Linked DNA regions of Homo sapiens. The protein of the gene in region 1 interacts with the protein of each later gene in a biochemical or structural test. Each region holds a gene or a part of one and is shown in the gene's direction. Other genes may lie near its edges. The genes, in order: SCGN, MLF2, DDAH2 and DOC2A.

Evidence for each region.
Region 2: the proteins of SCGN (region 1) and MLF2 form a complex in vitro, tested with the Homo sapiens proteins (one study listed by BioGRID).
Region 3: the proteins of SCGN (region 1) and DDAH2 form a complex in vitro, tested with the Homo sapiens proteins (one study listed by BioGRID).
Region 4: the proteins of SCGN (region 1) and DOC2A form a complex in vitro, tested with the Homo sapiens proteins (one study listed by BioGRID).

What each region holds. Positions count from the first base shown.
Region 1 is NC_000006.12:25,655,188-25,662,237, forward strand, and holds part of SCGN (secretagogin), read left to right. Parts: intron 1-6,364; coding exon 6,365-6,457; intron 6,458-7,050.
Region 2 is NC_000012.12:6,747,496-6,750,141, reverse strand, and holds the end of MLF2 (myeloid leukemia factor 2), read left to right. Parts: intron 1-134; coding exon 135-294; intron 295-1,159; coding exon 1,160-1,347; 3' UTR 1,348-1,372; exon of another isoform or gene 1,373-1,594; 3' UTR 1,595-2,146; downstream 2,147-2,646.
Region 3 is NC_000006.12:31,726,538-31,733,311, reverse strand, and holds DDAH2 (putative hydrolase DDAH2), read left to right. Parts: upstream 1-4,012; 5' UTR 4,013-4,150; coding exon 4,151-4,447; intron 4,448-4,566; coding exon 4,567-4,666; intron 4,667-4,787; coding exon 4,788-4,861; intron 4,862-5,019; coding exon 5,020-5,139; intron 5,140-5,619; coding exon 5,620-5,769; intron 5,770-5,958; coding exon 5,959-6,075; 3' UTR 6,076-6,272; downstream 6,273-6,774. Other genes in the region: CLIC1 (chloride intracellular channel protein 1), read left to right, coding at 914-1,095, 2,309-2,470. UniProt on the Homo sapiens protein: Putative hydrolase with unknown substrate. Does not hydrolyze N(G),N(G)-dimethyl-L-arginine (ADMA) which acts as an inhibitor of NOS.
Region 4 is NC_000016.10:30,008,009-30,015,360, reverse strand, and holds the start of DOC2A (double C2-like domain-containing protein alpha), read left to right. Parts: upstream 1-4,333; 5' UTR 4,334-4,458; intron 4,459-5,125; 5' UTR 5,126-5,138; coding exon 5,139-5,400; intron 5,401-5,803; coding exon 5,804-5,883; intron 5,884-6,084; coding exon 6,085-6,159; intron 6,160-6,255; coding exon 6,256-6,365; intron 6,366-7,352. UniProt on the Homo sapiens protein: Calcium sensor which most probably regulates fusion of vesicles with membranes. Binds calcium and phospholipids. May be involved in calcium dependent neurotransmitter release through the interaction with UNC13A.

The sequences.
Region 1 (7,050 bases):
TGGCCAGCTCCTAAAAATCTGTCCTCAGGGACCTGGAACTTCTCACCTTTTCAGAGGGCTCCTTGTTCTAGTCATTTATAAAAGGGAGGAGAAAAATTGCTGTCACTGTTGAAGCTGGAGTATCTAATATTCATTCATCGAGTTGGGGTCTGCACTAAGATGAGGATGCTGTGAGATATCTTCATCTGAGATTTTGGCTAACCTTAGAAGCATTGTTGCCATTGTGAGAGAAAAGAGGGATGTCATCTCTTGCAGCTTGGCTGTTTTTATCATTGCCCCTATCTCAGACCTGGTCCATGGACTAATGCTCTTACACAGGGGCAAGCATAATCCTCGAGGAAAGAGGACAGCAAAGGACTCACTGGTGTCCTGCGCAACTGCATTCAGTGCAAATATCTCTGAGGCTGGAACGGGGGTTGGAAGTTCTCATAATCCTTAACCTAGTGCAAATCAAATTTCAGTATGCCTGAGAATTATATTTTTTTGTTAAAATGCAGACCCCTAGGTCTCATCCTGTAGGTATTTAAATACATTTGGGGTCTGCCAAAGATCTTTCATTTTAAAAGCACTCAAAGTCAGTTAGCATGTTTTTTTACCCTTTTTTCCTCTAGGAACAGTGACTTTTGGAGAGGGGATTCTGATATAATTAGGCCAATCCCACTGAGCTGTGGCAATAGCCTCAGGCACATCTCATGAGCACTTGGCTGGGAAGAAAGCTTTTGGAGCCAGGATGATAAGTTTGAACTCTTAACTAGAAATGATATCATCTGCCATTGGATGCCTTTCAAAACGCTGAGGCATTACTCTGGGGAGTGTGTTTGCAGGGACTTTCACTGGGCACTCCATGCTACCTGGACAACCATGATTAAGGAAGCTATTCCTAATTTTGGGTTTTGTCTCTGATGAGTAATAAGTAGGCCTTAAGCAAGTTCTTAACAATAGGGCAGGACTTCCAAAATGGAAGGCCCTTCAGTTGAGGAACAGTCACCATTTGATTGTGACACCTGCTTTTGATTGGTAATGCCCAGTGAGTACAGAATCCAGCAGCAGGGAGGCCTCCACAATCAGGCAGCCCCTTGCTCTGGTGTTCAGCAGTGGTAAGCCAACCTTCAGAGGCATGAATAGCTCTACTTTCCTCTGATGATTAGCGGATCACAGAGATCTCAGAAGAAGGTATTTTGAGGTTTCTAACAGCAAGCTGCCTGCTAGTCTATCCAGGAGAGCAACCAGCCTGCTTGTAATTACCTATTCCTCAGAGCCTCGGAGGGGATTGACTTAATGGAACCATCAGCTGCAATTGCTGCTGTTTCTGTTACTCCCTGCAAACCTTTTCTTTCCAAATGCTGAGATTTTAGCCAGTTCATGGATAAACATCAGATTCTATGTGTACATACCCCTCACATACAGACTGTACCACATCCTGGGCCTCTTTCAATACTTCAGGGATTATAGTACCCTGCTGTAGCCTAGCGTCTCAGATAAGGACTGATGGGAAATTACAACAGAGGAAGCCCCAGTTTCTTTTGCTTTAGGTCAAAGGGATAGTCATGAGCTTTGGGGTTAGGGGTCTGAGAAGACAGAAGCCAAGATTCTGTGTCCTCAAACTAAAGGTAATGTAGAATCTGGCCACTGTTACTTTGACTTCACATTTATTTACTTTAAAATCTAATTTTTCACCAACATGACCTATGTTAGTTAACTTCCTTTGGGAATTCCCAGCCCATCATAAAGAATCATTTATTCATCCAATGGATCCTGTGTTCCAGAGATAAAGAAATGAATGTTATACTTGTGGAGTTCTTAATCTAAAAGATCAAGCTGAATTTCAAAGTGAAGTTCGACCCTGTTGAGTGATTTCCATTGTGCTTTTCCTGTATGGTACATGAACCCTCAAATGTAAGCACACACAAAATCTTTAGTGCTGAAACTAGACAGGTTAATCCCACCACGATTAGTGGGGTATCACATGAGGTAACCTGGTTGACAGAAGAACCTGGAGTCTCAAAGAACCTGTTCACCTTCCACAGAGAATAAAAAAAATGTACCTATTGTCTCTGAAGACCCACTCCAAAGAAGACTCATGGTCGGTGGGGAAAGGACAACTATGTGTGGAGGCAGAAATCCAATGCTCATTCCCTGTCTCTCCATCTAGAGCTGTGTGATAGCAACATGCCATTTAAACCTCCTGGGTCTCAATTTTCCTATCCATAAAATAATAATTATTAGAATAATGTTTTGGCCTGCCTGTTTCACAGTGAAGACCCATAAGATAACACAAGTGAAAGGTGCTTTTAGTTGCAAAAGCACCCAACATATATGTTCTTATGCTGACGCAATATCTTCTTGGGTCCTTAGTTTTCCCAGTGTTTATTCTATGCCCCACTTTGCCTCAGATCCACCAAGGGGTTATCCCACACAGGATCATTGAAGCTTACTCTCTTAAACACTGAAATGCTTTTAAGATTTTATATATATATATAATATATATATTACGTGTATATATATATGTGTATGTGTGTGTGTGCATATATATATGATTTCCAGTTTATGAGAGCAAGTTTTCCAAGCTAGGGTAGCCTTTGGAGGATGCCTTAAGTCATACTCACCACCACTCTTTGGTCCTTCATGAGTAAAGGAGGCTACTCAAAGGAAGACAGAAGACAGACTGTCACCTCAGGGACCTGTTAGACTTGCTCTGTCTTAGACAAATGATACAGGCATTATCTCTCATTTCTTCACTTGATGCTTTGGTTCCAAATCACTAATGTATTTTTTCACATTTTTAGTCTGGTGTGTGTTCATTTAGAAAGGTATCCTTTTTTTTTTTTTTTTTTTTTTTTTTTTTTTTTTTTTTTTTTTTTTTTTTTTTTGAGAGGGAGTGTCGCTTTGTTGCCCAGGCTGGAGTGCAGTGGTGCGATCTTGGCTCATTGCAACCTCCGCCTCACGGGTTCAAGCTATTCTCCTGCCTCAGCCTCCCGAGTAGCTGGGACTACAGGCACGTGCCACCACGGATGGCTAATTTTTTGTATTTTTAATGGAGACGGGGTTTCACCATGTTAGCCAGCATGGTCTCAATCTCCTGCCCTCGTGATCCACCCACCTGAGCCTCCCAAAGTGCTGGGATTACAGGCATGAGACACCATGCCCATCTGGTATTCATTTTTTTTTTTAACTAGACCCTTCACTGTTCCCCATTTATAATCACCATATGAGTATGTTTGGTTGATGTTGACAGAGTCAGACTGTCTAAGTCCTCTTATTTTAATCATTTTGGGTTTCTAAATACAGGACCAAAGCCAGAGGTATAGCAGATGACCTTGATATGGCTAGGATGCACAGATCCATTTGACTGATACATCATCTCAATCACAAATGCTACTGGTTTGGGTTTATAATTTTAAAGAATAGCTATACATATAGATGCTATTTTTTAGTTCTTGTTCATATAACTTTAATTTTTTCACAAAGAGACTCACCTTCACTGCAATTTATTTCAAATAAAGTTTATTCCTCATTATTTATTATCCATTTGGGAACTATACAAACCATTAATTCATTAACCTCTTTCTGTTGCATGCATTTCATCTATTTATCATCATTTGCAGCAAAAAAGCAACAAGTGAAAAAAAAGGAAGTACAATTCTATCTTTATACTTGCTGACAAAAGTTTGTGTATGATTGAACAGGGAAGAGGCAAACTACTGACTGACATGAAACTTGGCAGTTCCCTATATATCCAGTATCCACACCAATCCTGGAAGTTTAGAGAATCAGATATTAGAGGATCCAATAGCTTAAATCCTGTCAGCTCACAGCATCTTTTCTACCTCACTATTATAACCCGACATCAAACATTTGCTATGCACCCACCTCCTGCAATGAGTTGGTACGATGGATGACAATTATCAGGGGCTGAGGTCTAGCATAATGCCCAGGAACTTCCCTAGCATTAAAATTGTTTTTGCTGACCAAAGTGTTCCCTGGTTTTCTAAGAATATGCTTTCAAACCTTCAGGGTCTTATAATATCTAAAGCTTGTGGTTATCTAACTAGTTGCCAGAACCCATCCTGAAAAATCCCCAAAGCAAGTCATCAAGCTGTCCTTGCATTTTGTTTGAACCATCTAATTTATTAACGACTTAATGTTGGAATGCAATGACTCCATTAGGTGTTCTCTGCCTCATCTCAACCAACAACAAGGTGCGGTGGAAAGTGCACTAGACCAGATATCAAATATGCTGGTTTCAAGATTGTTCTGCCAGTATTCAGCTGCATCACCCTTCTGGCCTGTTTTCTCCATCAGTAAAATGAAAGGGTAGTGTCTCAGATTCTTAGAAAGGGTGCCAAACATCCTCTGATTTTTTTTCTTCTTTATTCTTTTGCTTCTAAATCACAAAGACTAATCTGAAGGAATCATACGTTTTGATTTATAGTTGCAGCAATGGATAAAATTATCATGAATTTGAGTATTAGTCTTCATATGTTAAGATCTGGAAGGTAGAGAGTTTGTACTACTTTTCTACTAGATTTTCTACTCACTGGAAAACATTTGCCATATGCTGTCTTCCCTGGGTTTTATGCCTGAGAGCAACATGTTGTGCCAGGCTAAAGTGTTTTAGGACGTTTTGTTCTAGGAAGGACTAAAACAGAGCATGGGTTGTTCTGGCAAGTTCTTTGCCATATGCAAGAGGTCAACTGAAAAGATGACAGCCTGATGGGAAGAGGTGAGGACTGACAGCCCCTCCGAGTCAAGACTACAAAAAAAACAGAAACATTTTCTCAGCCAGTGATGGGAAAATGATAAAGGAGAATTTCCATGTAAGAAGCTGGAGCACAAAAGAAAAAAACAAGGTCCCCAAAGAGGAAGAAGCTAGCAGGCCAGCAAGGAAGCCAGGGGCTAAAGGTTATAGTACATTTTTTTCTGCCTCCCAGGGCCGTTGTGAAGATCCAGGGAGATAATATTTGTTAAAGAGCATGGCTTAGTGCCCATCCTCTGGCTGGCAGTCCAAAAATGTTTATTCACCTGCTCTTCTTTCCTATTCTTAGCAACTGGATGTGGCAGCTGTTAATTCCCCACCACAATTCTCTTTCCACCGTCTCCTCTTTTCTTTGTAACCCATTAGGGAGAGGTCTCAGTGGAAAGGAAGGCTGGACAAAGATGCCTTCCACCAGCCTGTGATGGAGGGCAAAGACCAGGTCTCTTTTGCTGACTATAATATCACCAGGGGCCAGAATTGTGTTTGGCACATGGTAGGTGCTTGACAGAAAGCAGTCTTTTCTGGGTTTTATACCTGAAAGCAACATGTTGTGGTGGGCTAAAGTGTTTTAGGACATCTTGCACCTGGGTTGTTCTGGCAAGTTCTTCCTTATCTCAGGATGTTGCATTACCAGCACATGCTGGGGTTATTCTTGAGAAATACAAGTGAGAAAGGCAGAAGAACTGAGTTAGCCCAAGGCCACCCAGAGAACTGTCCTGTACACATGTGCATGGATGATGCATCCAGAGAGTGTGCTGAAGGCTGAGTCACCTCCACCCCCAACACCAACAGGGAGGATAATGAGTCAACAGGATTACCTCTTCTCAGCCCTTCTAACTTACAGCTGGAGGGCTTGGGACAAGAGACAGCATGATAGTATTAGGGAGAATGAGTTTAGCATAAATTTCAGCAAGTCTAGAATCTTACAATTGGGCACTGTTTGGGATTATCTATGCTTCTCAACCCTTGCATCAGAATTCATTCTTTATTGTTGGTTACATATGTCACTTTTACTGTAGTAACCATAAAATCCACCAAAGAAGACAATTAAGGTTCTACATAGAAGGGAGTTGTAACATCTTTGGTTAACTCGGCAATTACCTTATTACTTTGGTCTCCTCTTTAATTATTTCTCCCTTCTCATTATGTTTTTTTCCTCAGAGAATACAAAAGAAGATTAAAAATGAGTTACAGACACCTGGGGGCCCAGAAGAACTGGACTTTTCAGTTAAAAAATGTAAAATCTCTGAGTTATTGGGAAGAAAATCTGTAATTACAATACAGTCTTTTGTCACAACCAAATACAACACTGTTCAAATTTGTTCTTTCAGCACCCTAGTCTCTAAGCTTCTTTTCATCAATATTTTAGTAACTCATTAACTGTAAATTGTACCTAGTCAAGATTCTGATTAGTGCTTGGTTGCTCAAGAAATCTCCAGCATTGCTCTCTCTTCTACAAAAGGGTAAAATCACTTTAAATGGTCAAGGAACCTGCTTTCCATGTTTGAAAAACATAATTTTCACGCTGTATATTTTGAATATTTGCCATCCTAACTATATCTTTGAGATTCCAGTGGCTTTAATGTGGCTCTGTTTGGTCAATTGCAGGACACGGTCATGAAAGCAAATTTGCACAAGGTGAAACAGCAGTTTATGACTACCCAAGATGCCTCTAAAGATGGTCGCATTCGGATGAAAGAGGTAACTTTACTGACAGTATTTTTCATGGCTCTACTCTTCTTGACTGTTTTTTTCTTTACTTTATCGTCTTGGGCTGTAATATTCTTTGAAAGACAATGGAAACTTTACATTTGATCAGGAAATTAGAGATTTCTGAAAGGCAGTTGGCCTAGATAGCATTTTAAAAGTAATCACCTCTCCTTTTTCATCTACTTAGTAACAAAGAGTGTGCAATTCTTTTATCATTTTATTTAGGTCAATCAATATTTGTACCTGTTTTATAATTTGGGAATTGAAATGATAGAGGCCTTTCAATTACTTGATCTACTATTTGTCTCTTTATACAGTGTCCTGTTCAAATTGAACATTGATATAAGGAAAAACTTACTGATAATAAATAAGGTTAAACTTCAGCATCAGCTCCCAGTGCAGGTGGGAAAGATCTATCCCTAAGATTATTAAAAGCACGACAGACAATAGGTGTCTTTACTTCAACTCAACCCACTTTTATGGAGCACATACTAAAGCATGTAACTATACTACATGTGTAGGGCTGTGGGGATGGTCTACAACTTACCTGATCATTTCTCCTTCCAGTTACAAAAATGTTTACA
Region 2 (2,646 bases), on another chromosome or scaffold:
GGATTGAGCGGCACCGCCAGAAACCCTGGCTGCTTTTTTCCGGATTGGGTTGTGTGTGGTGTGTTTATCCTGAGATGGTATAGGCAGGGCTTTGGAAGGGGCGGCTGAGTGTGCCACGTTCTGCCTCATCCCAGATCCGGGAGACACGGAGGACTGTTCGGGATTCAGACAGTGGACTGGAGCAGATGTCCATTGGGCATCACATCCGGGACAGGGCTCACATCCTCCAGCGCTCCCGAAACCATCGCACGGGGGACCAGGAGGAGCGGCAGGACTATATCAACCTGGATGAGAGTGAGCCTTCCCTCCCGCTTCCTGGCTGGCAGCCCCTAACCCGGTTCCCGTGGACATCCCTAACACATAGACACTTCTGGGGCAAAGCTCTGGGTCAGCCCCATATTCCTTTTTTTTTTTTTTTGAGATGGAGTCTCGCTCTTGTTGCCCAGGTGCCCAGGCTGGAGTGCAGTGGCGCGATCTCAGCTCACTGCAACCTCCGCCTCCCGGGTTTAAGCAATTCTCCTGCCTCAGCCTCCCGTGTAGCTGGAACTACAGGCATGTGCCACCACGCCCAGCTAATTTCTGTATTTTTAGTAGAGACAGGGTTTCACCATGTTGGGCAGGCCGTTCTCGAACTCCTGACCTTGTGATCCACCCACCGACCGTTGGCCTCCCAAAGTGCCGGGATTACAGGCATGAGCCACTGCACCCAACTGTCAGTCCCATATTCTTACCGCACTTGGAGCCTCCTCCGCTCGGGCGGAGTCAGGTGCTGGCGGTGTCTTTGTGAGGGGCCTACTTTGTCCCTGAAGTTCCGTATTGATAGTGTTACACCCTTCTCCACCTTGATCCGTTTCTTTCTCCCCTCTTTATCTTTTTCAAATCCGCAATTATTAAGTACCTAGTGTGCACATAGGACTGTGAACCTGAACTGAAGAATAATCCCATTCTGATTTCTTCCTCCAGTAGGCCACCTTACGCCTACCGGTGGCTTCCTGGGACCGTGCAGAAACCAAAAGAGCTAAGGGAATTGCCACCCCACCCATCCCTGCACGCACACTCAGCCTTCGCCGCTTTGGCCCGAAAAGCTGTGGCTCGCTCGCACATCGGCCTCCAGGAGCCAGGCCGCACACAGGCCTCATGTCCGCTCTGTCCTTTCCAGGTGAGGCCGCAGCGTTTGATGACGAGTGGCGGCGGGAGACCTCCCGATTCCGGCAGCAGCGTCCCCTGGAGTTTCGGCGGCTTGAGTCCTCAGGGGCTGGGGGACGAAGGGCGGAGGGGCCTCCCCGCCTGGCCATCCAGGGACCTGAGGACTCCCCTTCCCGACAGTCCCGCCGCTATGACTGGTGAGGGCCCCGGGCCCTCAGCCTCTCTTGTAAGTATCAGGAGTAAGGAGGGTGGGGTGCACCTGCGGACGGTCCTCGGCTGCAAGGCAGGCTCAGTTCAGGCTCCCGCAGGAGCTGCCTTTGGTAGTACAAGTTGACATGGAAAGAGAACAATGTTCTCACTGACATAGGGGATTAAACCCCAACTCCTGGCTCTTAACGTAAGTTTTTTCTTCCTTTTGACTTGTGCTCCTCTCTCTTTCCCCCTCCAGGTACAGGCTGAGAGGCTGAGAAATCATCCCCTGAATAACTTTTTCCTCTCGATTCCCATCCCCAATTTAATATTAAATTAACAGGCAAGCCGGCCCCCACCTCTCCCTGGGGGTCTCAGGGAGAACCTTTCACGGCACCCTTTCCCTACCTTTTCCTTCTTTAATCTCCTGGTTTACCATTGATGACTTCGCCTCTGCATCTACTGACTTGATTTTTCATTCTGCCACTCCATCTTCAAACCCCCTCACCTTTCCCATCCTACTCCTGCCATGCATTGAAGGGTCAATGCATTTTGGGGTGAGCTCTGGGTTTAGGGGCCCCCTCCATCCCTCAGCTACCCTGGATCTTTGCCCACCTCTTCCTCAGAGCCCCCACTGAGGGGCCGTAGCCCTATCTAGGGCTGTGGAAGGAGCAGACTGGTTCCTAACTCTCTCCCTCCTCCTGCCCACACACATCAAAAGAATCTTCCCTACACCCTTCTCTGCCTTTATTTTTTGATTTGTGCAACTTGTAACTAGGTGTTTATGGAATAAAGGAGAATGGAAAAAAGACCAAGTGGGATTCTGGCTGTACTTTTGATCTTTTCCTGTTCAATTCAACCCTGCTGTCTCCTCTGAAGTTACCTTCTCACTTTTCCTCGTCTCCACCTGTAGTCTTCGTACCTCAGAGTTCAAGCCCACATCTCCTTGGTACGGACAGACCATCAGCACTGCCAGGTGCAGGCCGTGAGCACTTGGCTGGGCTAGGCTGGGGCGTGAGAACATGAGCACCTCTCTCGCTGGCTCTTCCCTCACATTCTGCTGTAACTTTGCTCTTCAGGGATGTGTTGGGCATCTCTCATGGGTGCCTGCGGAACTTGCTGCCCCTTGCCCCTTGGACAGAGTTTCTTTCCTGCACTCTGGGTGGAAACACTTCAGATAACCCTACACAGGCCTTCAGAGGGGAGGAACTCTGGTCTGCAGCGTTCCACAAACCCTCCACCCACAGTAGTTGAGAATTTGAGCCCAGGGAAGGAGCCTAGAGAAGAAAACTAACCTGGAACCTGAGCAGG
Region 3 (6,774 bases), 6.1 Mb from region 1:
TTCTGGCAGAATAGGGTCATGCTTAAGAACAGTCATCACTCTAGATCCAGACTACCTGAGTACAAATCCAACTAGCCGTATAATTTTGAGCAATCATTTCACCTCTCTGTAAGTCCATTTCCAGATCCACAAAATTAGGATGACAATACCTATTTCATGGGTTGATATAAATTTTTTTTTTTCTTTTTTTTTGAGATGGAGTCTCGTTCTGTCGCCCAGGCTGGAGTGCAGTGGTGCAATCAGCTCACTGCAACCTCTGCCTGCCGGGTTCAAGCAATTCTCCTGCCTCAGCCTCCTGAGTAGCTGGGATTACAGACGTGCATCACCACGCCCAGCTAATTTTTGTATTTTTAGTAGAGACAGGGTTTCACCATGTTGGCCAGGCTGGTCTTGAACTCCCGACCTCAGGTGATCCACCTGCCTCGGCCTCCCAAAGTGCTGGGATTACAGGAGTGAGCCACTGCACCCGGCGATATAAATGAGTTTGTAAAATGTAAAGTGTTCACTTTGGGAGGCCGAGGCTAGCGCACCACCTGAGGTTAGGAGTTGGAGACCAGCCTGGCCAACATGACTGGTCTCTACTGAAAAAAATACAAAAATTAGCCAGTTGTGGTGGCAGGCACCTGTAATCCCAGCTACTCAGGAGGCTGAGGCAGGAGAATCATTTGAATCTAGGAGGCAGAGGTTGCAGTGAGCCGGGATCATGCCACTGCACTCCAGCCTGGGCAACGGAGCAAGACTCCGTCTAACATAAAATAAAATGTAAAGTGCTTAGAATAACACATAGAAAAGTAACTACATGAGTGTTAGCTATTATTATTTTGGACTCACCATTAGTATCCACCCCCAACGGGCCTTTTCGGACTATGTCAATCTTTTCCTGAAGTTCTAATCAGTTCCCTCTCTTGCACAGATCTGGAGAAGGGACTCCTGAAAGCCCTGAAGGTTTTAGACAATTACTTAACATCCCCCCTCCCAGAAGAAGTGGATGAAACCAGTGCTGAAGATGAAGGTGTCTCTCAGAGGAAGTTTTTGGATGGCAACGAGCTCACCCTGGCTGACTGCAACCTGTTGCCAAAGTTACACATAGTACAGGTGTGTGGTTATTGCGGGAGGAGAGGATGACCACTGGAGTGGCCCTTTAAGGAGCTCCCACATGGGCTTCCCCTGACAACCACTCTAAAGACGATTTCTTTCTTAGGGTGGTTTTCATAAATTGCTACCAATGGCAGACCCCACCCCAGTCCTTTGCAGCAGTCATTGCTAACAAGACCACTGCTTGAGATAATTATATTCCATGATGTAAGTCATGGGTGCAAACAGACTAGCAAAGAGGAATACATCCCAGTATTACTTTTGAAGAATGCTCTTCCTGTCTCGGTATCACTGCCAAATTCCCAGATTAGACAGAGCAGGCTTTTCCTAAAGTCAAAGCTTTAACTTTCTTTATAACTTCAGTCTTCACTTCCTCTTGTGGAAGATCAAAACTGCTGGTTCCCATGTTTTTGTCATAGTCTCAAAGCTATGGTTTAGTTTGTGCAACATGGGCCTGACATCAGTCTGCCACACAACTATGTAGTGAACATCTGTGTACTAAGCATTGAAAGATACACAAGTGTATGGTGACTGGGCCTTGCTCTCAAAGGGTTGAAATCTGAGACAATAAAATATTCACATGAAAGTTAAGAATATATGATGAAAAGTCAGATGGGCCGGGCGTGGTGGCTCACGCCTATAATCCCAACACTTTGGGCGGCCAAGGCTGGTGGACCACCTGAGGTTAGGAGTTCGAGACCAGCCTGGCCAACATGGTGAAACCCCATCTCTACTAAAATTACAAAAATTAGCCGCACATGGTGGTGGGCACCTGTAATCACAGCTATTTGGGAGGCTGAGGCAGGAGAATCACTTGAACCCGGGAGGCGGAGGTTGCAGTGAGCCAAGATCGCGCCATTGCACTCCAGCCTGGGTGACAGCAAGACTCCATCTCAAAAAAAAAAAAGTCTGATGAAAAATATAGAGACAAAAGTCACCTGTGTCAGTGCCTGAAGTGGTATAGGGGGAAAAAGTCACTGTGGAAATTCAAGAGGAGAATTTTATAAGTAAATTATATCTCAAGTTTTAAAAACTCAGGAAAAATGGCTGGTTATTAAAAGCCAGGATTTCAGTAAGTGAGAAGGAAGGCTAACGACAGTACAAGACAGTGAGGAGTTGAGCTGGTTTTATCATGTCGGCCTGGGGAGAAGGGAAAGCCAAGGTGGCTTCCCTGGGTCTAACATGTTGGTCCCTCTCCTCTCCCCATCCTCAGGTGGTGTGTAAGAAGTACCGGGGATTCACCATCCCCGAGGCCTTCCGGGGAGTGCATCGGTACTTGAGCAATGCCTACGCCCGGGAAGAATTCGCTTCCACCTGTCCAGATGATGAGGAGATCGAGCTCGCCTATGAGCAAGTGGCAAAGGCCCTCAAATAAGCCCCTCCTGGGACTCCCTCAACCCCCTCCATTTTCTCCACAAAGGCCCTGGTGGTTTCCACATTGCTACCCAATGGACACACTCCAAAATGGCCAGTGGGCAGGGAATCCTGGAGCACTTGTTCCGGGATGGTGTGGTGGAAGAGGGGATGAGGGAAAGAAATGGGGGGCCTGGGTCAGATTTTTATTGTGGGGTGGGATGAGTAGGACAACATATTTCAGTAATAAAATACAGAATAAAAATCAAGTGTTTTTACGCAATGGGGATTTAAAGTGTGGGCGACATGGAATGAGGGGTGGGTCAGTGATCTTGAGCTCAGGGCAGAAGCCAGGAATTAAGAAGGGAAATGTTTGTGGTGGGGCTGCTATGTTTCGTGCCGGTCCGCCGGTCCGCCGTTGCGCTGTTCTGAGGTCTACGAAGCGTTTGCAGCCCCGTCGCCAGGGCCGGCCAGATCTGGGTGGGCCTGGGCAGCGCTCGCTGGGCGGTGCCGATTTCTGGCAAGGGGGGCGCAGTCTGGATGTAATGGGCGAGGCTTAGCAGGGCGGAATGGGCGTGGCCCGAAGAAGCCCCGCCCCGTCCCGCTTAGACAATGCCCCGGAGCCGCCAGACCGTCGCGCCCCTGCCCCATCGTAGTATATGAGCTCGCCTACACAAGGACCCGCGCTAAAAGCCAGAGCTCCCAGTCCCCGAGGCTTGAAGACGGGGACTCCCTTCTCCACCAACTCTGTCCTCGGGGGGTGGGGCCCCAGCCGAGATCACAGCGCGACAGGAGTGGGGGTGGCCGCTGGAGGTGAGTCTTGCGTGGGGGGCCCTGAACCGTGTGGGGGCCGGAGTTTGGGGGTGCCGGGCCCATGCCTGCACCAGACAGAGAGTATGGGGAGCCGGTATTTGGGCGCGGAGCTAGGCGGGGTGGACTTTGGGACATAGACGGGGAACCGGGTCCTGGAGCCGGGAGTAGTGCCAGCGCCCCGGAACCACGCCCCCTGTTACCCCGCCCCTCGCATTTCGTTTTAGACCTCTCCCAGTCCTTCGGGACTCGGTCTGGTTTATACTAGGTCGCGCTAGGGGCAGCGTGACCAGCCAGGGCGGAGAGAGGATGCTTAACTCCTTAGGCTCGAACTCCTCCCTTCCTACCCACCTCTCTCCCTTCTCGTTCGGGTATTCAGGACTTCCATTCCCCAGCCCCTGCCTCTCCAGCTTTCTCCTTCTGTCCCATAACCCCTGCGGGTCGCGGGCTGGACTTCCAGTCCCTGCGGTAGCGAGCAGCTGAGGGTTAAGGGGGCGGGGCTGCTGCATTTTTGGGGAGTGAGCGCATCCTAGTGGCTGCCAAGAGGGGCGCCCGACAGGGACCTCACAAGCCCCCAAGCAGGGGCAACAGGTGTTTTGGAGATTAGAGACCCTAGCCTTGTTCCTCAGGCTCCTCTTAAAGAATCTGACCCCTGAGGGTGCTGGGTAGAGTGAGGTCGACAGGAGCGGAAGGTCTGGAGTGGGTGGGGCGGAGTGGGAGGGACGCCTAGAGATGGCAGGAGGAAGACCTGGGCGCTCTTAACCACCCCCAACGCCCTTGTCTGCATGTCTTTTTCTCTGTCTCCTCCTTTTCTGTTTCTTCTCCCAGACAGGTGAAGAAACAAGAAAACTAAGAAATCCGAGCGGTTGGAGGGGGAGTCTGTGTGGATGGGATGGGGACGCCGGGGGAGGGGCTGGGCCGCTGCTCCCATGCCCTGATCCGGGGAGTCCCAGAGAGCCTGGCGTCGGGGGAAGGTGCGGGGGCTGGCCTTCCCGCTCTGGATCTGGCCAAAGCTCAAAGGGAGCACGGGGTGCTGGGAGGTAAACTGAGGCAACGACTGGGGCTACAGCTGCTAGAACTGCCACCTGAGGAGTCATTGCCGCTGGGACCGCTGCTTGGCGACACGGCCGTGATCCAAGGGGACACGGCCCTAATCACGCGGCCCTGGAGCCCCGCTCGTAGGCCAGAGGTGAGCGCCGTGGCGCGGGTGTGGTATGGGGAAAGGCAGAAGGAACTGGATGTCGGGGCTTTGGGGAAGAATTGAGGATGGGGGTGTCACAGCTCCGTGCCCTCTTCTCCTATCCTAAGGTCGATGGAGTCCGCAAAGCCCTGCAAGACCTGGGGCTCCGAATTGTGGAAATAGGAGACGAGAACGCGACGCTGGATGGCACTGACGTTCTCTTCACCGGTGAGGCTGGGGGGAGGCATAGGTCTTGGCACAGGGAAGTAGAGTTTGGGAGACTCGGCCGTCTGGAGCCTTGTTTCTAACTCACTCCCGCCCTCAAACCTCCGCGGCCTCCCGGACTCAGGCCGGGAGTTTTTCGTAGGCCTCTCCAAATGGACCAATCACCGAGGAGCTGAGATCGTGGCGGACACGTTCCGGGTGCGGAGCGGGACCAGCCTAGGGAGGGAGGGGGTGCAGGTGGGGGTCGGAAGGGCCTGGGCGCCCGCTGAGGAAATGAGAGGCAGAGAGCAGCCTATGTTTGAAGATACCCCATCACCCCTCCCGCGCCCCTGAATACCTCCCTTCGCTCTCCCTAGGACTTCGCCGTCTCCACTGTGCCAGTCTCGGGTCCCTCCCACCTGCGCGGTCTCTGCGGCATGGGGGGACCTCGCACTGTTGTGGCAGGCAGCAGCGACGCTGCCCAAAAGGCTGTCCGGGTGAGGAGGGGGCGGGGCCAACGAAAGTGGGCGCAGTTCTGGGCCCGGGAGGCCGGGAGCTGGGAGGCTTAGGAAATTAGCCCTAACCCCTGCCCTCAATGGGCTGTCCATCTTACATGAAAGAACACAGGAGAAAATAAGAAGTTACAACAGCAGGACTGGGAACAGGGGTGATTAATTTGCTCTTCCGGAGTTTCAGGAAACCCCAAAGGTGGCACCTAAACTGTGACTCTAAGGATGGGTAGGACAGATAGGAGGGGCTGGGGAAGGTAGGGGGTTGAAAATAACTGCATGTGATTCCAAGGTGGAAATTAGCAAAGGTAACTAAAGTACTTAGTGTCTGACATATCGTAAGCTCTATGTGCTTGCTGTCATTATTTTCCACAAATGTCAGTCCGTCCCCAGCCCTTAGTGGTGGTTGAGCAGGCAGACACAGCTGTGGAGAGGTTCTGAGACTCGAACACTTCCTCTTTCCTCTAGGCAATGGCAGTGCTGACAGATCACCCATATGCCTCCCTGACCCTCCCAGATGACGCAGCTGCTGACTGTCTCTTTCTTCGTCCTGGGTTGCCTGGTGTGCCCCCTTTCCTCCTGCACCGTGGAGGTGGGGATCTGCCCAACAGCCAGGAGGTGAGAGAGGGCAGGAACTCCAACACCAAGCACCATCAGAGAAAAGAGTTTCAGGCTTTCCTAGTGGGAGGAAGGAAGGGTACCTTCTCTAGAAGCCTGGGTGGGGCCACTCTGAGCTGGCTGGAAGAGTGGCCTGGCTCAGCCTGAGGTCTCACTCCCCTCTCCCCACTCCATGTCTTCCCTGTGCAGGCACTGCAGAAGCTCTCTGATGTCACCCTGGTACCTGTGTCCTGCTCAGAACTGGAGAAGGCTGGCGCCGGGCTCAGCTCCCTCTGCTTGGTGCTCAGCACACGCCCCCACAGCTGAGGGCCTGGCCTTGGGGTACTGCTGGCCAGGGGTAGGATAGTATAGGAAGTAGAAGGGGAAGGAGGGTTAGATAGAGAATGCTGAATAGGCAGTAGTTGGGAGAGAGCCTCAATATTGGGGGAGGGGAGAGTGTAGGGAAAAGGATCCACTGGGTGAATCCTCCCTCTCAGAACCAATAAAATAGAATTGACCTTTTAGACTGGGCTGTGACTGGTGTCTTACTGGGGCAAAGGGATAGGGCAGGGCTGAAACCTGAGTTTGGGGTCAGTGCAGGGAAGAAGGCCTCTTATTCAAAAATCTTGTTAGGTACTTATCAACTCATTGCCCAACCATGTCATAGGTACTTGAGCACAAGATGAACAAGACAGAATTTCTATCATGGGAAGTGTGTCCAGGGCAGAGAAAAGAGTGTATGGGTGGATTGCTCACTGAATTTATCTAAATGTTAGATGATTCAGAGACTGGTAGATTACCAGTCCACCCCTATTTGATAAAGAAAAAGAAATGACACTTCCAGGGACATTCATTTTCATTCATTCATTTAATGAGGCTTAGCAATGATATCAAAAGGGTCAGTCTCCTGACGTTGGGGAGCTCACAGTACATGCAAATTTCTTACAAATTGAAATACAGGTTGTCATGGAACAATTTACAGAAGGCTGTTTCTATGAGGGAAATAAAGGGGGTGCGCCCTAGGGC
Region 4 (7,352 bases), on another chromosome or scaffold:
CTGGGTGACAGAGCGAGACTCCATCTCAAAAACAAACAAACAAACAAACAAACAAAGAAATACCAAAATTTATTATTTTAATGTATTCTTTGGAACAGGTAACCTATGCATGTGGCACAAAATTCAAAAAATACAAAAGGATGTACGTTGAAAAGTAAGTCTTTCCTCTTCCTGCCCTGTCTCCCCAGAGGTCACCATAGTTATATTTTCTTCTGTGTATTTATTATTTTTTTATTATTATTTTTATTTTTTCACTCTCTCAGCTTGTCAAGAGACACAGTTACCATTCTTGTGCAGGCCTCCAGAAACAACATATGAACAACTAAGCAAACACGGCTAAGCTCTTTCCCTCTCAAATGGCAGTATTCCAAGCATGCTTCTCTGCACTTGCTTTTCTTTTTTGATTTTTTTTTCTTTTTTCTTTTTCTTCTGAGATGGAGTCTTGTTCTGTTGCCCAGGCTGGAGTGCAGTGGCATGATCTCGGCTCACTGCAACCTCCGCCTCCCAGGTTCAAGCAATTCTCCTGCCTCAGCCTCCCAAGATTACAGGTGCCCGCCAACATGCCCAGCTAATTTTTGTAATTTTAATAGAGACAGCGTTTCAGCATGTTGGCTAGGCTGATCTTGAACTCCTGACCTCGTGATCCTCCCGCCTCGGCCTCCCAAATTGCGGGGATTACAGGTGTAAGCCACCATGCCCAGCCTGCACTTTGCTTTTTTTTTCTTTGAGATGGAGTCTCGTTCTGTCGCCCAGGCTGGAGTGCAGTGGCGCAATCTCGGCTCACTGCAAGCTCTACCTCCTGGGTTCATGCCATTCTCCTGCCTCAGCCTCCCAAGCAGCTGGGACTACAGTTGCCCGCCTCCACGCCCAGCTAATTTTTTGTATTTTTAGTAGAGATGGGGTTTCACCGTGTTAGACAAGATGGTCTCGATCTCCTGACCTCGTGATCCACCCGCCTTGGCCTCCCAAAATGCTGGGATTACAGGCGTGAGCCATGGCGCCTGGCCTGCACTTGGCTTTTCTAAGTTAAAATGAAACTGTGAAATGATTCTAGGGCCAGGCACAGTGGCGCACGCCTGTAATCCCAGGACTTTGGGAGGCCGAAGCGGGAGGATTGCTTGAGTCCAGGAATTTGAGACCAGCTTGGGCAAAGTAGTGAGACCTTGTATATTTAAAAAAAAAAAAAAAGATGATTCTAAACAAGAGCAAAACAGCCTCTTGTGGCTGCACCCTATTTCACTGCATGGAATTACATCATGACTGATTTAACTGGTCCCCTGCTTCTGGGTATCTCAGTTGTTTCCAGTCTTTTGGAACGTGCTACATTTAAGAATTTTGAACTTCATGGCCAGGCGCGGTGGCTCACAGCTGTAATCCCAGCACTTTGGGAGACCGAAGCAGGCGGATCATGAGGTCAGGAGTTCAAGACCAGCGGGGCTAAGATGGTGAAACACCGTCTCTACTAAAAATACAAAAACTTAGCCAAGTGTGGGGCGTGCGCCCCTGTAATCCCAGCTACTTGGGAGGCTGAGGCAGGAGAATTGCTTGAACCCAGGAGGCAGAGGTTGCGGTGAGCCAAGATCGCACCATTGCACTCCAGCCTGGGCAACAAGAGTGAAAGTCTGTCTCAAAAAAAAAAAAAGAAAAAAAGAATTTGAACTTCTATTATTTGGCTTATGGGTTGGCATATCTGTAAGATAAAATCCTAAAAGTGGAATTTCTGGGTCTAAGGATTTTTTTTTTTTTTTTTTTTTTTTGAGACAGGGTCTCACTCTGTTACCCAGGCTGGAGTGCAGTGGAGTGATTATAGCTTACTGCAGCCTTGACCTTCTGGGCTCAAGAGATCCTCCCACCATCACGAGGTCAGGAGATCGAGACCATCTTGGCTAAGAAGGTGAAACCCCATCTCTATTAAAAATACAAAAAAATTAGTCAGGCGTGGAGGCGGGCACCTGTAGTCCCAGCTACCCGGGAGGCTGAGGCAGGAGAATGGCATGAACCTGGGAGGTGGAGCTTGCAGTGAGCCGAGATCACGCCACTGCACTCCAGCCTGGGCGACAGAGCGAGACTCCATCTCAAAAAAAAAAAAAAGAAAAGAAAAAAAAAGAAGAGAGATCCTCCCACCTCAGCCTCTTGAGTAGCTGGGACCACAGGCACACACCACTATGCCTGGATTTTTTTTTTTTTTTTTTTTTTTTTTTTGTAGAGACAGGGCCTCACCATGTTGCCCAGGCTGGTCTTGAACTTCTGAGCTCAAGGGATCAGTCCGTCTCAGCTTCCCCCCAGCCCAGACACTTTGGCTTTGCCCATTTTATGGGTAATAAGTGATATCTCAGGGTTTTTTGTTTGTTTGTTTGTTTGTTTGTTTTGAGACTGAGTTTTGCTCTTACAGCCCAGGCTGGAGTGCAGTGGCACGATCTCAGCTCACTGCAACCTCCGCCTCCCGGGTTCAAGCGATCCTCCTGCCTCAGCCTCCCAAGACACATACCACCACGCCCGGCATTTTTAGCAGAGATGGGGTTTCACCATGTTGGCCAGGCTAGTCTCAAACTCCTGACCTCAGGTGATCCACCCACCTCGGCCTCCCAAAGCGCTGGGATTACAGGCGTGAGCCACTGCGCCCCGCCCCCTCAGTGTTGTTGACTTTACATTTCTCTTACTTTTTTTTTTTTTTTTTTTTAAGAGACTGTGTCTCACTGTGTTGCCCAGGCTGGCTTCACTCAAGCGATCCTCTCGCCGCAGTCCCTGGAGTAGCTAGGATTACAGGCACCCGCCACCACTCTCGGCCCCATTTCTCTTATTTAAAAAAAAAAAAATTGCCGTGAAATACGCATATCGAAATGTACCATCTTCACCATTTTTAAGGGTAAGATTAGGTGGTGTTAGGTATGTTCAGTTGTCGTGCAACCAGATTGCTGTTTTAAATAACAGCACTTAGAGATGCCGACTTCGTGCCAGGCCCAGTTTGGGACATTAGGGACTCCCAGATGAATCAGCCGCTCCAGTGGAACTCCCTGCTGGTGGGGGAGGCACTGGCGAAGCGGTGCTGAGCCGAGTCCTGACGGCGCTGGAGCTGAGGGGCAGTGCGGGATGCCCCAGGAAGGCTCCTAGGAAGAGGGGACCCACGGTGACTTCCTAAGGAAGCGCGGTTCCCAGGTAGAGGAGCGCATGTGAGCCAAGATCCCTAGGCCTGAGCCGTCTAGGTGTGTCCCAGGAACTGCAGGAAACGGTTGGGTGAGTCAGTGGTGGGCAGCGAGGGTGATAAGCCCCTTCGTGTCTTCGGGATGGTAAGTTTGGGGCACAGGTGAGTGAAGACCGAAGGCCAGGGGTGGACTGACACTCCGTGGCAGGCGCAGGGCCGGGCAGGGGGGCGGCTTGGGGGTGGCAAGGTTTGGGTGAGAAATGGCAGCCCATGGGGAACTACCGCAGGGCTCTGAGACCTTCAGAGCCAAGCCCCGACGCCCCTTCCCACCTGCGGGGCAGAACTGGGGATGGCAGGGGGGAGGGTGGTTCCCAAAGGAGATACCATCCCTGGTAAGGGGACATGGGCCCCTGGGAGTTGGGTTGGGCCACAAGGAGAGAGGCCTGAACGGCCAAAGGGAGGGGGCGTGGGGGAAGCCGCAGCATCAGACCTCTGCCTCCTCCCTCAGATCGTGAGGCTCCCCAGCCTGGCTCGGGAGACCCCGAGATCCCCGGCCGGTGACAGCAGGCGACCCCCTGCTCCTGTCAACCTGTGGGTCCCTACGGACGTGGGGAAGGGAGGAGGGAGGCCCCAGCTCCCTGCGGGGGAGGGGCGTGAAGACGCGCGGGGGTGGGGGGAGATGAGCCGGCGTCGCCATGACAACGAGGCCGGTGGTCCGGCCTTGGGGACCCGGGAGGGAGGGAGGCGCCGTGGCCGCGCGCGCGGGCGGGGGCGGGGGGCCAGGTCTCCCAGGAGTAGTTGGGGAACACCCGGCGATTCTGGCGGCTGCTTCCTGGTGGCGCAGGGAGCCCGCGTGTTTGCGAGTGCGTGTGTGTGCGAAGTTCTCCGGGTAAGTGTGCCAGCGCGCGCCTGGGTGTGTGCAAGGGTGTGAGCGTGCACACGTGGGCACGGGCGTGTGCGCGCGGGGGTGCCCGGTTGGATGTGTGCACACGAGTGTGTGCCGGTCCGCGTGCCCCTGCGTGAGTGTGCGCGCGCGAGCACACGTGTGTGTGCGCGCTCGCGTGCGCTCCCGAGCGGGCCCCGGGTGGGAGTCCGAGATCCCGCCCCCTCCCCAGCCCCAGCGCCCCTCCCCGTCCCCCGCCGCCGCGCCGGCTGCATCCTCGCCTCCACCTCGCTCACCCCCTCCTCCCCGCACTTTCTCGGCGCTCCCTCCCTCTCGGCTCGCACAGCTCGACTCCGCGCTCTCCTCGCCGGCCGCCGCCGCCCAGCCTGCGCCCGCCGTCCCCCCAGTGCCTGGGCACCTGTTGGAGGCAGAGGCAGGTGCAGGGGGCTGGGCAGGCCGGGGGCGTGAGGGTGCGGGGAAGCGTGCCAGCCTGTGTGCGCTACGGGGGTGTTCGGCTCTCCTGCGGCTGCAATTTCTGGCTCCCCTGAGGAGCCAGAGGTGGCATCTGAGGCTGGGGTCTCCACCGTGGGCTGTGGTGAGCGAGCGGGGGAACCAGGCAGGCAGACAGGTCCTGGGGCTGAATGAGGGGACAGTGGGCAGTTGGAGCCTAGAGGGGTGGGTGACACCCTGACTAGACCAGCGCCTGGTGCAGAGGAGGACAGAGCCTCCGAGAAACAGAGGCGGGGCCCTGCAGGGCCCCTTGGGGGACAGGCAGGCTCAGGAGCAGAGGGGAGCCCCGGAGGAGAGGAAGGAGCTGGCAAGATGATACAGGGACAACCTAGAAGTGGGTGGGTGAGGACGGGGTGGTGCAACCTCGACTTCTGCAAGGAGTGGGTTGGCAGCCCAGCCCCTGTGGAGTCAGCTTGGGGTCTGCAGGGCCCAGGCCTCCCACCTGCCACCGGCTGGCACACACCACCCTCTCCCTCGACACCTAGGAAGGGAGGCCAGTGAGGGCCCCACAGACCGAGGAGGCCGTCGCCTGGCCCTCAGCCAGGATGGCTAGGTATGATGGGCTCACTGGCTCACACGCCCTCTCCTAGCCAGGGGTGCTGCATGAGGGGCCGCAGGGGCGATCGCATGACCATCAACATCCAGGAGCACATGGCCATCAACGTGTGCCCCGGGCCCATCCGGCCCATCCGCCAGATCTCTGACTACTTCCCCCGGGGACCAGGACCTGAAGGGGGCGGCGGGGGCGGCGGGGAGGCCCCCGCCCATCTGGTCCCCCTGGCTCTGGCCCCCCCTGCAGCCCTCCTTGGGGCCACCACGCCTGAGGATGGTGCGGAGGTGGACAGCTATGACTCGGATGATGCCAGTGAGTCTGGGGGCTTGGAGGCCCCATGTGCTGGTGGGGGTCTCCAGGCTTGCCGTGGTGGGGGGAGAGGGGGATGGGCCCTGCTGGCTGTGCATGTAGGTAGGGGAGGAGGGCAGTGGGGGGGTGGCAGGGACGGCCACCACAGCTGCAGTCAGCGTGGAGATTACAGCTTCAGCAAGGCTCAATATTCAGTATTTCTGCTGAGACACTCCACCACCCACACAGCCCCAGTTGCGGCCGAGCCAGGGACCCAGACGCACACACGCATGGGCCCACTCAGCCTCTTGCACTCACACTCGCGGGCTGGCAAGAGAGAGAGACACACAGAGCCAGTGCCCACCTGCTGGCCTCTCGCACACACCTGTCTCCATACCGACCCATGCTGCCTTTCCTCTCTCTCCAGCCGCCCTAGGCACGCTGGAGTTTGACCTTCTCTACGACCGGGCCTCCTGCACTCTGCACTGTAGCATCCTCAGGGCCAAGGTGGGCACTCCCTGCCACCCAAGCCCGGGCCCGGTTTGCGTGCAGCCCCCAGAGGGGGCCCATTCCTCCTTCCCTTCCCAGGCCTGCTCCTTCGTCCTGCCCTTGCCCCCTCCTTCTGGGCTCCTCCAGGGTCCAGCTCTACAAGAGGGATGGAGAGAGGTGCCGGGAGCCTCTAGCCCTCTCCCCTGCCCTCCTCTCCAGGGCCTCAAGCCCATGGATTTCAATGGCCTCGCCGACCCCTACGTCAAGCTGCACTTGCTGCCTGGAGCCTGTAAGGTAACAGCCTCCTCTCGCCCCGCCCGGCCCAGCCCATGACTCCAGCCTGTGGGGCTGGAGGACAGGTATTGAGAACCTTTCATCCCCACATCCCAGGCCAATAAGCTAAAAACGAAGACTCAGAGGAACACACTGAATCCCGTGTGGAATGAGGACCTGACTTACAGCGGGATCACAGATGACGACATCACGCACAAGGTGCTCAGGTGAGGGCCCCCCTCCCCACCACCCAGCAGCAGCTCGGGGACAGCTGACATTGTAACCGCTGGTTGGTTGATCTATGTCCCATTAAGCCCGTACCTCTCTGATGCTCAAGAACCATCAGCGGCTCCCTAGCCCCTTTGGCAGCAGGCCAAAATTCTTCCCTGCCATTCCTGCCCCTCAATATCTCCTGCCTGCCAGGTGTGGTGGCTCACACCTGTAATCCCAGCACTTTGGGAGGCCGAGGTGGGCGGATCACTTGAGGTCAGGAGTTCAAGACCAGCCTGGCCAACTTGGTGAAACCCCCGTCTCTACTAAAAATACAAAAATTAGCCGGGCGTGGTGGCATGTACCTGTAAATCCCAGCTACTCGAGAGGCTGAGGCAGGAGGATCACTTGAACCCGGGAGGCAGAGGTTGCAGTGAGCCGAGATCGCACCACTGCACTCCAGCCTGGGTGATGGAGACTCCATCTCAAAAACAAAACAAAAGTATCTTCTGCCCCTCAAACAGAGGACTCCCTTCTTCCAACTGGCCAGTTCCACAACTCCTGAACTTTTCCTGTTGTTTTCTATCTGGAAAGCTCCTTCCTGCCAGCCTAAATTCCGCTCATCTGAGGTTCAGTCCAAGCTCTGCCCCCTCCCAAAAACGTTCCTGGGTTGCCGAGACCCCTTCTCAGAGCCCTTGGCTTAAGCCAGACCTCTGCAGCTTTGGTCTGCCCCTTCCGTGCCTTGAGTTCCCCTAAAATCTCTTAAGGAGTGAAGTCTTCAGGGACAGGGAACTTGCTCCGTCATCCTAGGAGATGGAGATGTAGGGAGAGTACTCCCTCAAGTCAGGTGGCGGGCAGCGAAACCCAGGCTCTGGAGAGACCTCTGCCTTTGTGCTTGGATTTGCAGCTGGGACCTTCCCTGATGGTCAGGGCTGTGCAGCAGAGAGGCCACCTTGGTTTCAGCTATTCGGGTGGAATGGAGGGGAGGCCAGAGGCCAAAACCA